Homo sapiens: one gene and its partner. Changing the gene in region 1 together with any one later gene gives a genetic interaction. Each region holds a gene or a part of one and is shown in the gene's direction. Other genes may lie near its edges.

The links.
Region 2: of NEUROD1 (region 1) and CCND1, changing one suppresses a phenotype caused by changing the other (phenotypic suppression), as found in Homo sapiens cells (one study listed by BioGRID).

The regions. Positions count from the first base shown.
Region 1 is NC_000002.12:181,677,483-181,685,394, reverse strand, and holds the start of NEUROD1 (neurogenic differentiation factor 1), read left to right. Parts: upstream 1-4,877; 5' UTR 4,878-4,965; intron 4,966-6,523; 5' UTR 6,524-6,534; coding exon 6,535-7,605; 3' UTR 7,606-7,912. UniProt on the Homo sapiens protein: Acts as a transcriptional activator: mediates transcriptional activation by binding to E box-containing promoter consensus core sequences 5'-CANNTG-3'.
Region 2 is NC_000011.10:69,644,108-69,651,179, forward strand, and holds part of CCND1 (G1/S-specific cyclin-D1), read left to right. Parts: intron 1-3,886; coding exon 3,887-4,035; intron 4,036-7,010; coding exon 7,011-7,072. UniProt on the Homo sapiens protein: Regulatory component of the cyclin D1-CDK4 (DC) complex that phosphorylates and inhibits members of the retinoblastoma (RB) protein family including RB1 and regulates the cell-cycle during G(1)/S transition.

The DNA.
Region 1 (7,912 bases):
GGAACTTGTCCGGGTCCTCTCTCCCAACCCACTGCAGCAACCATTGTTCTTGCGACGCTCCGGCGCCGTCGGTGTGTCTCGGCTCTCCACTCCTGAAGCTACACACAGCTACCGAGGATTTTTGTTTGCTTGCTTCTTTCTATTAAGGCAAAGGTTGGCAAATAGCGTGTGCTTGTCAGTTCCCTGGCCCTGCGATCCCCTTTGGACAGCAAGCTGTTCCTCGATCCCCGGGAAACAGGTGTGCGCCCTCTGCTCACGCTCCTCACCCGAAAGCAGGTGCGACCGTGGACATACACTTAACACTCTCACACCCATCCACTTATGCCCACTTTCACATACACATTCACATTCATTGACACACACCTGCACACACTCATATGTTCACATACACACTAACAATCACACACTCATTATATGCACACACGATTTGCACACACATTCACATAATCTTGCACACACACGGATTCACACACGTACATTCAAGTGCAATCACACACTTTTGCACACACAGGGCATCGGACGCACGAGGCCTTGAGCAATTGTGCCCGTGACCTACGACTGCCAAGATACTCCTACTGAGTTGATTTTACGTTGTTGATTCTGAGTGTTGGATGGTTTAAGGAAAGCCCCTGGATCCTGACAGGGAATCAGAGACAAGTCCTTCCAAGGCCTGTGGGAGCCGACAAAGGAGCCACCAAAGCCCCGTCGGGACCGGGAGGGCATAAATAATAAATAAAAAGGCCCAGGCAGGCCGAGCTGGGGAAGCCCGGCACTAAATCACTCCCTAAATCACAGTCGCGTCGTGCTCCATCCAATAGCTCTAAGCGATTTGTGGGGTTGGGGGTTGAAATCAATTTTTTCCGTTCTCGCAGGTGCAATATGAATCAATTATCTTAATTAAGATTATGCCGCAAGCCCAGGAGATTTGGGGAGGATGGGTTTTGCGCTCGGGGCGACGGCGAGGCATTTTAATAGCGTCTCTCGTTGCTCTTGGCTCTCCCGGGTCGCCTGCCTGTCGAGCCTGGGCAGCTCCAGCCTCAGGCCAGGACCCGGGAGCCCAACTGCCTCCCCCGGGGCGGAGGCGCCGCGTCGGCGGTCTGGTCAGAACCCGCATCAACCCCCCTTCATCCCCCGAAGCTCTCAAGAGCCTCCGAGCTACCCAGCCTGTGCAGGACCTGCAGCTCTCAGCCCTCCGTTCCTGCGGCCCCTGAGCCCCACGGTCTCGCGGGCCCCTCAGCCACCCGGCCCCCTCACTCCGCTCTCCCGCGCCCAGGCCCCGACACCCCACTCCTAGGCAGGGCGGGGAGAGGACGCGGGAACCTCTCGAGGTCGGCCGGGCTGCCCTGGCCACACTTGATCCTTTCATTGAACGCAAACCTCCCTTTGCAAGAGCGAGCATCTGTTTCCCTGAGAAACAGGTCACCGCCAGGGACGCCGGCCCGGCCCCTGCGCTTTATCTTGGCCCTGTGAATGCTTCGCCCCCGACCTCCCGCTCCCCGCTTTCGCCTCCAGCCACACGCTTCCCACCCCCTACGTCCGGGCCACACGCCTCCATCCCTTCCCCACCCCCATCCTCCCACATGCCTCCCCCTTCCCCTCCGCCCGGCCCAGGCCACACTCCCCTCTCCCCACCCCTGGCCACACGCCTCCTCCCGCCCCCCTTCCCGCGGGCGCTCCGGCTGCCGCTGTAACGGCCGGGACGCCCGGCCCGCGCCGCGCGCTCAGAGCGGGGACCCGGGAGGCGGCAGATTTGGGGCATTGCTCGAGGGCAGTGAGTCATGAAAGAGGCTTTTGTTGTCCGCGCGTGCGGTTCGCGTGCCGCTGGGTAGCCTGCAGCGCCCAGTAGGGACGGGAGCTGGGGGAGTACAGCTAACGGGCAGCGAGGGGAGAGACAAAAAACTTAGGGAATCAGGAGGGGGAAAAGTGTGCAACCGTCCAAACAAGTCCAAAGAGAAGAAAATAAGGAGGAGGAGCGGGGCCGCGGAGAAGGTCCTCAGTGCTAAGCCCCGCCGCGCCTTCAGCTCTGTCCTCTCCGGGATCCGGCTGACTCTCTTCTCTCGCCCCAATTTCTCGCGCCTTCAACCCCAAACAAAACGCACCTCAATCCAGGCCGTGTCCAGGCTCCTCTTTTTAGGGCCTTACTACCCCGCATCTCCTGGGAGCCTCGCGGGCACTGGCTGAGCGTCGCGATGCCGGCGCCCCGGGTCGAAATTTTCCGCGCAGAGGAGGGTCACATCGGAGCGCTGCGGGATGGGAAGCCCAAGGACAGCTACCGTGAGACCCAACCTCAGCCCTGTCTCTGAAACATCCTGGAGTGGCCTTTCCTTTGTACAAATCTCCAGGCCTGAGCGAACAACGCGCAGTGGGATTAGAGATGAATTTATCAAGGGTAGAGGGAGGAAACAGACTAGTAATTCCCGCACTTTACGCATTTGAGTCTCCGTCTGGCAAAACACTCGGGCGTCCCTCTTGCTCAAGAACATCTGACTCCACCATAATTCTCCTGTATTGCACAGGATGTCGCGAACTGGAGGTTTCTGCTTTCTGGGGGTGAGGACAAGGATTTAGCAGAGGGACCTCTAGGCTACCCCTGACCTCGAAGCTAGCTGGAGTCCTTTCTCCCACTCCGTCCCCAGTTCTCCTCCGGAACTCCCCAAAGTTGGAAAAATGAGAGCCTAGGCACGAGTTGCATATGCCTGCGGCATAGTGTGCTGCCAGTCGGGGCAGCTGCCGGGTGAGGGGCAGTACTTAACCTGGCCCTGCCGCAAACGTCGGGCTGTGTACTATCTTCTAAGGGCTAGTACTCCGACGCCCTCGAGTTTTAGCCCAACACTGAAGATACAGACAGTACAGGGGTAAATCCTGGGCCCAGGCTCCTGGGTGAATTATTTTATCCTCCCCTATGCGCTTTGTCAGCCAAGTGAATGTAGAAAAGCAAGCAAAACTCCAGAACCCCACAACGATTCACGCCACGCTTCGGTGGCACAACTCTTTTCTTCCCCTTTTAGATTAGTACTGTGCAGGGAAGGCTGCACCTGCTACCTTCAGACACCGGGGATCTGGCTAGGACCCTCTTCCTCTACCCCTACTCTCTCCTCCCGTCCCCACCCTCTCCCAGATGCACCCCAATCCAGCCTCTCAACCCTGTCGCTGTTTGCAAACTCGAGGGATGTTTAGTGCAATTGCCTTTAAATAAGCAATTCACGTAAGAGGTATTTATTGCAGAGGGTTTCAGGTCTGGGAGGGGGTAAGGAGTTAGTTAATGAAGGATTAGAGGCAAAGCTGGGAAAGAACGAGTAGACAGGCCAGTTTCTTTCTTTCTTTTTAAAATCTATTATTCTGGAAAACCCTTGTTCGAAAAGAGTAAAGAATTGCTATTTGGGCAACAATATGGCTCCTTCAGAACTGGTCGAGAATTTCTGTGGTCTTTGCTTGACCTTCAAGTTGGGAGTTTCAAATCAGAGGCTTTGAAGTCTGGAGGAGTTCGCAGCCATTAATCCTTCCGGGGTTGTGCTAAAGGCGTTTCTAGAAAGAGATCGGAAAGACCCGTTCAGCACAGGCCCATTGCATCTTCTCTTTGAAAACGCTTGTCTGAATCAAGTATCTTATACAGACCCGAGACTGAGGGGAGCAAGAGCGCAGGTCCGGCTGTGGCGAGGTGTCCACCACCGTACTTGTGGTCAATGCCTGGACTAGAGAGCCGAGGCCGTCCAGGGCGGGCTGGCCAGGGAACCAGAAGCGTCCCTGGACTGGCTGAGTGAGGGTGCCCTTTCCAGCAACCCAGTGGCCATGGTTAAAAGGCAGAATACAACCGTCAAAGAAGTCCCCAGCTCCCACATAAGAGAGCGCAAAGGCCAATGGAACCAAGGCCTCCTCGCGAGAACTAGCTCGCTTTGAGGACAAGATCCTGGGGATGGAGGTGGGGACTGACGTAGTGAGAGGGTCTGGAGGAACAGTCGTAGCTGAAGGTCAGGACATGAAGAATTGCACGTATGGTAGGGATAGAATGGCAGGTACAACTTTTCTGTACTGAAGGAACTGGGAGAGGACGATCCGGTTAGGGAGGTTGGGGAACTAATCTCAACGCTGCGTTTACAGATGAAGCCGCTTTTATATGGCGTATATGTTTGCTTAGAGGGGCCGACGGAGATTAGGAGAAGCCATCCTTTGGCGCCAATGATCAAAGCGTCTGCCAAGGAGAAGAAGCCAAGGGATGGGCCTTTCAGAGAGGGCAAGGAGTCATGCTGCTCTGGATGCCAGTGTCAGGACAAGAAATCGAAAGGAGCGAGGACTCTTCACTGCGTGCCTCAGTCTCCCCGCTTCTGCCTCTTTCACCTCTGTCCTACTTCCGGCGCGAAAGCAGGCCACTCGCTCTGATCTAGACCTAGTTAACATTAGCTTTTCCCTTCCTTCCCTCAAATCCCCTCCCCCCTCTATCCCCGTCCCTTCTGCCGCCTGAAAGGGTTAATCTCTCCTGCGGGTAAAAACAGGTCCGCGGAGTCTCTAACTGGCGACAGATGGGCCACTTTCTTCTGGCCACAAAGGGGCCGGAATGGAGCGCTCCGCGGCATACAAATGGGCAGGTCACGTGGTTCCAGGCTCTTGGCTGGACCGGGAAGACCATATGGCGCATGCCGGGGAGGAAGGAGGAGGGGCGGGGGTAGGGGTGGAGGGTGAGGGGAGCGGTTGTCGGAGGAGGGCGGGAGACGAGCAAGGCGTGGGGAGAAGTGGGGAGGAGGGGAGAACGGGGAGCGCACAGCCTGGACGCGTGCGCAGGCGTCAGGCGCATAGACCTGCTAGCCCCTCAGCTAGCGGCCCCGCCCGCGCTTAGCATCACTAACTGGGCTATATAACCTGAGCGCCCGCGCGGCCACGACACGAGGAATTCGCCCACGCAGGAGGCGCGGCGTCCGGAGGCCCCAGGGTTATGAGACTATCACTGCTCAGGACCTACTAACAACAAAGGTAATTACAGTTCTTTCATTTTTTTGCCCCAGAATAGAAGCAATAACTGAAGACTGATGAACCTACATATTCTGTATGTGTGCGTTTGCGAGAGTGTGTATGTGTATTGAGACCAGCATCCCCCTCCATAATTGCCCATAAGTACTCACACATAATGAGTCGTGTCACTCAAGTACCCCCTGCAGGCTTTCTAATTTAAATTTTAAAAATTTGGGTTTCTTTTGTGGATAGCATAGGAGCTTCTTGGATTTTTTAAAAGAATGCACGGTAACTATGATTATCTGCTAGTGCTGATTTTAAAGTCCCAAAAGCAATAATGACTTCACTTTCTCACTTCTTACAGTAAGAAAAAAAAATCTATGTTATCAATATATATTTTGTGTGCATGTATTTTACGCACATTGGGAGTGTCAAGCTGTGTTTTCAGTGAATGAAAGGGACATGGATACCTTGAGTATTCACACCATGGAAAATAAATCAGGTTCAGAGATAGTTTAGTTGAGAGGGGGGAAAGTGGAGAAAGGGAGAGGGACTCACTCCTGCTACCTGTTACCGCTCCAGAGGCGGCCAAGTCCCCAGCAGCCACTACTGGAGCCAGAAATTCAGTTGTTTTACTAAAGGCTTTTTATTTTCCTTACTAGAAGCGGCAACTTCGCGGTTGCCAATCGCTGACCATTATAATTACTCAATCTTTTAAAGGGAGGTTTGAGGCGAACTTTGAAAAGCCCCAATAAAGAGCGGGCGGCCCTTTCAATGGGCTGTTTATTAGAGAGGAGCCTTCCGCACCTGATCCCCGGCGCGTGGGAGAGCGCTCTGCGCCGCGCCCCCAGCCCTCGCCCTGCAGCTAGCGCTTTTGTACAAGGTGGAAATTTAGCGGTGGGCCAGAGATGGAAGGCAAGAAAAGAAAGGCGAGGGAGGGGTGGAAGACCCTGTCCACTTTTGTTGCCAAATGTTACATTGATGGTGAAACAATTTGGTGGAAACTATTTTTCCTCCTTTCTGCATTTGCTTTTCAGTATCCCGTCGATGTAATCTTCTTAAAAATCGCTGCCAGTATTAGTAAATTACGCAATGGCTGTTCAACTTAAATCGCTAAGTATCTGGAAGCCAGGACAGAAATGGAAGTAGAATGTGTGATTTTACAGCTTTTTTTTTTTTTTATGGAGTTGTGAGTAACTTTGAACACATTTGGATAAACATGAAGTCGCTGAAATGTACAGTCATTTCCACACACATTATCCTGTCGGGCAACCACCATAAACACATTTAAGTTAATCACTAGGATACAAACACATATGCGTGAGTGGTGTACACATATACATATTCACTACCCTCCCCCAGTCCTGTCCTCACTCCTACGTACTAGCGGGGCACACGCACGCGCCATTATAAAACACTGCATTTAACTTTTTCTCAGAGGCATTCATTTTGTAATGGGCAGGTACTTTTCGCAAGCATTTGTACAGGTTTAGGGAGTGGAAGCTGAAGGCGTATCTGGCTTTTGAATATAGCGTTTTTCTGCTTTTCTTTCTGTTTGCCTCTCCCTTGTTGAATGTAGGAAATCGAAACATGACCAAATCGTACAGCGAGAGTGGGCTGATGGGCGAGCCTCAGCCCCAAGGTCCTCCAAGCTGGACAGACGAGTGTCTCAGTTCTCAGGACGAGGAGCACGAGGCAGACAAGAAGGAGGACGACCTCGAAACCATGAACGCAGAGGAGGACTCACTGAGGAACGGGGGAGAGGAGGAGGACGAAGATGAGGACCTGGAAGAGGAGGAAGAAGAGGAAGAGGAGGATGACGATCAAAAGCCCAAGAGACGCGGCCCCAAAAAGAAGAAGATGACTAAGGCTCGCCTGGAGCGTTTTAAATTGAGACGCATGAAGGCTAACGCCCGGGAGCGGAACCGCATGCACGGACTGAACGCGGCGCTAGACAACCTGCGCAAGGTGGTGCCTTGCTATTCTAAGACGCAGAAGCTGTCCAAAATCGAGACTCTGCGCTTGGCCAAGAACTACATCTGGGCTCTGTCGGAGATCCTGCGCTCAGGCAAAAGCCCAGACCTGGTCTCCTTCGTTCAGACGCTTTGCAAGGGCTTATCCCAACCCACCACCAACCTGGTTGCGGGCTGCCTGCAACTCAATCCTCGGACTTTTCTGCCTGAGCAGAACCAGGACATGCCCCCCCACCTGCCGACGGCCAGCGCTTCCTTCCCTGTACACCCCTACTCCTACCAGTCGCCTGGGCTGCCCAGTCCGCCTTACGGTACCATGGACAGCTCCCATGTCTTCCACGTTAAGCCTCCGCCGCACGCCTACAGCGCAGCGCTGGAGCCCTTCTTTGAAAGCCCTCTGACTGATTGCACCAGCCCTTCCTTTGATGGACCCCTCAGCCCGCCGCTCAGCATCAATGGCAACTTCTCTTTCAAACACGAACCGTCCGCCGAGTTTGAGAAAAATTATGCCTTTACCATGCACTATCCTGCAGCGACACTGGCAGGGGCCCAAAGCCACGGATCAATCTTCTCAGGCACCGCTGCCCCTCGCTGCGAGATCCCCATAGACAATATTATGTCCTTCGATAGCCATTCACATCATGAGCGAGTCATGAGTGCCCAGCTCAATGCCATATTTCATGATTAGAGGCACGCCAGTTTCACCATTTCCGGGAAACGAACCCACTGTGCTTACAGTGACTGTCGTGTTTACAAAAGGCAGCCCTTTGGGTACTACTGCTGCAAAGTGCAAATACTCCAAGCTTCAAGTGATATATGTATTTATTGTCATTACTGCCTTTGGAAGAAACAGGGGATCAAAGTTCCTGTTCACCTTATGTATTATTTTCTATAGCTCTTCTATTTAAAAAATAAAAAAATACAGTAAAGTTTAAAAAATACACCACGAATTTGGTGTGGCTGTATTCAGATCGTATTAATTATCTGATCGGGAT
Region 2 (7,072 bases), on another chromosome or scaffold:
CCTGCGCTGGAGAGCGCTCTTCCAGCTCTGGTGAGCAGAGGCCCTGGATTGTTTGTCGCGCTGGATGGAGGGAGATTTGCTCCCTCACGGCCACCATGCAGTACCTTGGGCATTGGTGTGGACGGCTCAGCCTGCCTGTGTCCCGTTACTCTGGCCTCGTCCTTCAGGCCAGGCAGCCTGTGGCCACTCCATGCTGAAAGGGGTTTACCTTGGCCACAGGGCCGCCTCCTTTCTCCACCCACCTCCAGCCCTTCTTGTGTCCTTAAGGAGCCTGAGCTGCAGAGGCCCCCTCCTGGCCTCTCCCAGGCTGGGCCACCTGCCAGAGGCGCCTCCAGGGGCGGGGAGAGCTGTCGGCCTGCCTGCACCACGTGCTCTGGGCAGCCGAGTGCAGGGGTGTCCAGCAGAGGAGCTCGGCTGCCTGAGGCCCTGCCAGGGGTGCCGGCAGCCAGCCGGGCTCAGCTGAGCCCTGAGGGGGCGCTTCAGAGCACTCTCAGCTTGGGCCGCCACCGTGGGCAGCAGAAGCACCCAGTCCTCACTTCCCCTGGCATGGCCCCAGAGGCCCCTCCCTGACATGGCCTTGGCCCCAGAACCCAGTGGGGACAGACTCGCACATACACAGGGTGCCGCCTCCTGCTGTCCCCAGCCCTGCCTCTGACCCCCCTGTGACCGCCTCCTTCCCTGGCCCAGGAGGCCTGGTTACCTTCATGGGGGAGCATGGCCCCATCCCACCCAGCTCTGCTGTGGCCCACCTTTGGTCAAGCCTCAGTTGTCACATCTGTTTGGGGGCTCACTCTGGGTGACCTAGGCCACAAGGCCCACGGGGCATCAAAGAGGCAGTAGCATCTTCTCCCCTCCCCAGAGGGCAGAGCCCCCCAAGCCTACTTCAGAGCTCCCTTCTGACACCGGTAGCCCGCAGCCGGTATTCCAGAATGGGTTCTGGTTTAGGCGTGAGGCCTCCCCCACCTCCTCCACCTGCTTGGGGCATGAACCCCTCCCCCACGTTTCCAAGCGAGTCCCCAAGGTGGGCAGATGAAGATGCCAAGGATGTCGACCAGTCTGGATGGGTCTGGGGTGGGGGGGCATGCGGCAGACAGGGAGGCATTCTCTGGCTGGTGCTCCTCAGAGGAGAGAGGCCTCCGGAGACTCCAGACAGCCTTTTATGGAGCTGAAAGTGGCTTCAGAGAAATGCAAAGTTTCCTGGAGAGAACGTGGGGCGTGGTTCTTGCACAGCCTCCCTACAGGGTGGCTCCAGCAGTGGAGCTCCCCTCCCAGGACCCCTGGGTGCTAGTGGGAGGCAGTGGGCAGGTGCAGATTCTCGTCCTTCCCACTACTGCACACCCTTTGTCTGCGAAGGCGCCCCCAGCGGTGGGTGAAGGAGGAGGGACACTTGGGGACCCAGCTGTGCACGTGCTCTCAGTGACTGTGGAGTCCACTCCAGGGTGGGTCCCGAGGGAGGGGCAGGAGACCAGGGGACCCACCCCTGCAAAGTGCTCCGGGTCCTGACCCGTGGCCACCCCATGGAACGTAACTGAGCAGCCAGTGCCTTGTTCCTGCTGGACATCTGTGGAGACAAGAGTGACTTACGGCTGCTTAAAGTCAGAAACAGGTTGAAGGAGGTGGAGGCGTGGGAAAGAGTCTAGGAAGGTGTTTTTGCCCTCCACGTGGCAAAGGTTACATTTAAAGGTGATGCTGGGTGTTCTCCCTGCACTAGGCATTCCTGGCCCCAGGTCCCCAGCAGGTGTGCACATGCTGCATACACTCACGCATGGGGGTTTCAGGGCAGGTGCGCCCTTGGCTCCGTGGGAGGCCAGGTGAGGAACGTCCAGTGCCAAGGAGCTTCCGGGACAGCTGTCACTTCCCTTTACAACCAGGCAGCGGATAGGGTCAAATCCTGGAGCTTTGGTGTCTAATTCTGGGTGGCTCCTAATCTAAGCACAGACAGCACCACACACTGGGGTGGGGGCACGAGCTTCTGAAACAACGTGGCCCCAGTGACTCCACGCTGTGTGTGCCCCTGGAGACGGGGGGGTGCACAAGGTGCGGAGCCAGCTAGAACCTGTCGCTCCCTGCAGAAGCGGTTTCTGTGTGCGGTTCTGATTTGCCTCAATGAGAAGGTTTTCATTCATGGCTCCCGGCTCTCAGACTGGGTGGAACTGCTCCCATTTAAAGGGGAAAAGAGGTGGCTCGGCTCGTTAAGGATTTCTTTTTCTAAGTTGTTACGGCGCCCAGCAGCCGGCTTTGTCTCCCCTTCAGGGTGGCTGCCTTTCTTCCCGGCCCCTCGCCGGCGGCCCTCTCTTTAACAAGGCCGAAGTTGTTTATTCTCTCGGGATGAAGTCTCGGATGGGCCGCCACACCCCTGGCGGCCCGTGGGGGCCCCTCTCCCTTTGTGCCTGGGTCGGCTCCCATTCAGCTCCCCCGACCCCCCTTGTTCCCGGGCGCTCAGTGGCGCGAGATGAGGCGATGGGGCCGACAAAGATGCCACACTCATCCCTGCCGACGTCCGGCTCCCAGCCCAGGGCCCCTGGTTCCTGTGCAGAATTCCTCGTGGGTGTGACAAAAGGCTGCCCCCAGGCTCCGCTGGGGTGGGGGCCAGGCCAAGAGGCACATCCCACACTGGCCCACCTGTCCACGGTAGGCGCATGACTGCCCTGAGGAGGGGAGGCCGGCATTCCCCGCCACAAACCAGGACGTAATTGGTGGCAGGGCTCTCTGTGGAAAGAGCCAGTCTGCTGTTTGTCTAGGAGGTCAGTCACAGAGGCCCCGAGACGCCCACTACTGCAGCCTGGCAGGCGGATGAGCCCAGTATCTGGCAGTGACCAGAGGGAGTTTTGTGCAGACCACAAAGGCTGATGGGCCGCCCTAGATTGGTGTCCCTCTTGGAAGTGGGCCCAGATGTGCGGGACAGTCCCCAGGAAGCCCCAGGTGAGGGCACTGGTGCCCTCTTGGGAAAGCTGCTCCCTCCTGGGGCCCGGCTCCCGGCCCAGTCCTCCAGGGGTGTCCCATGGTGACTGGTGCTAGGAACCCCACACCTCTTCCCTTACTTGGGAAGTCACTGGAATTGTTGGGCTACATCAGACGGCCCAGAAAAGTGTTTTTGTCATCGGCCAGAAATAGGAGAGTTGTGAGTAGAGGGCCCGGGTGGAGTTGGGGTGTACTTGGTCTGTGCTCTGAAGGTCACTGTGACAGTCATGGTCCCATGGTAAGGGGCATGGGTTGCTGGAAGAGCTCTTCCTTCCCGAGTGAGCCAAGCCGGGCTCTCCTGGCGCCAGGGCCTGAGCCGCAGCCACACCACAGCCGCCCTGAAGGCTGCCGGCCAGGGCTTACCCCTCAAGGGACACGGAATGGCTTCATCAGTACCCTGCAGCCCCGTGGCCTGGCCCGGGTGGAGGCCTAGGCTTCAGCCATGCGATGTCCCTTCAGAATATGACTTGTCTGCAATCCCTGCTGCTGGGGGGTGGCAGGTACTTGGGGTGAGGGTTAGGGTCATAGAAGCGACATCTCTACGTCCTCATATTTGCGTCATCTAATTTTGTTTTTGTGAATACGTGATAACATTCACAAGGCTCAAGATGCTAAAAGGATGAGAAGGCAGTGATGTCCCCATCACCTGTCCTGTGTCTTCCCGTGGCTTTCTCTTTCCTTGGTTATGTTTGAGTCAACAGTGGGGCTGACGTTCCAGGAGGGTCCGTGGGCCAGGCTCTTGCTCTCCGAGTGCCCAGGGATGGCTGGAGGCTGAGGAGGGCCTGGATGTGGAGCCTCAGATACCGAGTGCTTCCCTTCAGGCCGGGCCGCTTGCTCAGAGCCAGCACACAGGGATGCCCGGATCACGGGGGCCCTGAGAGGGTCCCCTGCTCACAGCCTCCTTCCCTCTCTCCTTCTGCCTCAGATGTGAAGTTCATTTCCAATCCGCCCTCCATGGTGGCAGCGGGGAGCGTGGTGGCCGCAGTGCAAGGCCTGAACCTGAGGAGCCCCAACAACTTCCTGTCCTACTACCGCCTCACACGCTTCCTCTCCAGAGTGATCAAGTGTGACCCGGTAAGTGAGGGTGATGTCCCAGGCAGCCTTGCCGGGGCTTACAGGGGGAGACACCTAGTGCCACGGAAATGCCGAGGCTGGTGCCAAGGCCCCCAAGGGTGACAAGGTTGGGGCTGGGGCTGGGCCCCTCGGACCCCAGGCCACAGACTGACAGGGCACCGGCTTCTTCCACTGCTCCTAGAACTTACTGACTGGCTGGGAGGTCCTCACAGCCTTCTCACGTCCCCTGGGGCTTCCAGGAGCCGTAGAGTTTCTGGGCGAAGCGTCCGGGACGGAGGCCCCAGGCGGCCCCAGCCAATGGTCTGTGTGGTGATGGTGTGTGGGGTTAGGCCCAGGCGAGCTTTGTTTGGGCCACAATGTGCGTGGCCAATAAATAGATGCTTGAAAAGGGCTCCTGTGAGGTCCGAGACACCGGACAACGGGCGGATAGAGACAGCCTTGTTGTTTACGGCCTCTTTGAGAGGCTGCTGCTGTTAAACCCTGGGATGACTGTGTCTTTCTTCTTAAAAATGCCATTGTTTTATTCCCGAGTCTTTTCTTAAAGAAAGAATTAAAATGACAATCAAAAGGGTTTGTGGCATTTACCAAATTAGACCAGAGAGGTGGCCGGGTCAGCCGCCGGCCCCGCGGTGTGTGAGGGAGTGACCGCCTGACCCCAGCTTGGGGCTGGGTGGGCCTGCAAGACCCGTTTTGGCTCTGGCCTGGGCCGCCTCTTGGTGGTCTGCCCTCGAGCCTCCCGGGGACTCCGCACGGGTCTCAGCAGATGCTATCTAGGGTCCACCTGCCTGTCCCCTGCCTAGTGGTGCCTCTGTCCCGGGGACACTGGGAGTAGCGGCTGCCCAGCCCATGTGTGTCTCGGAAGAGGAAGAAGCTTTTTTGCCGTGGGACACCGAAGTTGGCAGGGGCCTCCCTTCTGTGTTCTCGGCCATGGCCTCCCTTGCACCCTGCCCCGTGTTATCCTTTGGGGGTGGTGAGGTGTCCTCACCCGCTGTAGGGTGGAGGCCAGCAGCCCGCAGCTCTCTCAGGAAAATGGCTCAGAAACACCATCGAGGCCTCCAGAAGCCCAGCAAAGAGAAAGCCCCTCCATCAAAATGAAACTCGCGTCTGCACTTTTCATTTCGAACTCCACGCCCTGAGTGAAAACCGCTTCCCCGCCAGGGGTGACTGCCCTGGGATGTTGCTGTCTTCGGGCAGTTGTGGGAAGTTGGGCGCTGGCCCTTATTTGAGTAGAGACCATCTTAACTAGATTGGAGGCACACGTCTCACAGCTGACAGACACACGGGGTGAAGTTACCCGAGGCGGAGTCCACTCTGCCTGATCAGCTAGTGACCAACGTAGCTGAGCCCAGACTCAGAAAAACCGTCCACAGCAGAGGCCCCTGCATTTTCTAGGGCGTGTTCTAGAATTTTCTTTGGTGGGTGGAATGTCCATCTGTGCAAATCGGGTGCGCAGTGCCACACACCAGTGACTTTTCGCGGAGGAGCGTGCTGCCTTTTTGGAGCTTCTGGCTGTGGGAGAACAGCTTTGTCCACCGGGGTAGCCTTGCAGGCAGCTGTGGGGCCAGAGGAATGAAGGAAGGTCCTGGAGTCTAGCTGCATGTGTGACCCTGGAGTGGGTCATGGGCGAGGGACGGGCCGCAGGTGAAGAATCCCTGGATGGAGCTGCCAGGCCCCTGGGGCTGAGAATTGAAGCTGGCTGGTGTTTTAGGTTGAACGTCAGGAGTCTTGTATCTCACCCCAGGCCTCTGGCCTCAGTTTCCCCATCTGTACAGTGGGACTGTTTGTGCAGCCAGCCCGGCCAGCTTCATTTGCCATGATGAGAATTTATCTGAGGGGCGGGAGAGGAAAGCCCTCCCTATAAAGGTACAGGCGCTAAAATGTCGTGACCTCAGTGGTCCACCTAAAAGTCGTTCTGGCCTGGGTCATCGCCTGTCGTGCTATGCCTTTGTCCAGCCCCTTCTGGTTGGGAGTTAAGTGGCACCTGTGCGGCACGTGGTGGGGCTGTGGCCCAGCCCTGCTCCTTGTGGAAGGTCTGTTTCCTGGGCTGCCTAGAGACTTGGCTTGAAGCCCTAGCGTGGCTTCCTGGCAGTTGGGACACACACAGCCCCAACACATGGAGCCGGTTCTCCATCCAGAAGCCCCCGGGCAGTAAGCAGCCACTTCAGGCTGCGTGGGACTTGCCCGTGGTGGAGCCTAGGAGAGGCCCCTGGCTGGGCGTGGCGTTCCAGATTTCACGGCTGCTCTTTCCCACTGACAGTGTGGTGTGGACGCTGCCAAGGGAGTCTGGAGCCCCAGAGGGTGGAGGTGCAGGACTTCCAGGAGCGTCCGTCGCACTCCACCCGAGGGCGAGCACCTCAGTGGCCGCAGTGGGTGGATGCATGCTGTGCCAGGCTGATGGCTGGCCCCGGGGCACAGGCCTGAGCGGGAGAGGATGGAGGGGAGGGATCAATGGTCCAGGTCCCCCTGGCCACCCAGCATTCATCCTCAGTCATGCACGGCCCAAGGCTTCGACAGCCATTGATCATGGAAGGCCAGGTTCACCTCAAGGGCTGCCACATGGAGAGGTTAAGTCTGAAAAGGCTGAAAAGGCAGGGTTCAAAGGGCCTCCTGTCCAGATCAGATGGCACTGAATTCCCCAGGGAGCTGGCACGGCCAGTGGGAACAGGCGGTGAAGGCGCTGTTGGACATGGGGACGGGCAGGGGGTGTGCAGGGTGGGCGGGCAAGCATCTGGTGTCTTGTGGCTCCAGAGACCAGGTGGGAGGTGGAGGCATTTGGTCCTGAGTGTCCTGACAGGTGATGGCAGCTCCCACATCTCGCTCAGGTTCAGAGGAGGCAGCATGGGCCGAGGGACAGTTTTTGGCTTAGTCTTGCTCTTATAAAGGCTTCCGGGTCATGGCACCTGGGAAGGGGCCCTCGCTGCAGGCCCCTTCTAAGGACCCCCTCTTCCCACCTCTCCCCACCCTCTCTCTCTCAGGACTGCCTCCGGGCCTGCCAGGAGCAGATCGAAGCCCTGCTGGAGTCAAGCCTGCGCCAGGC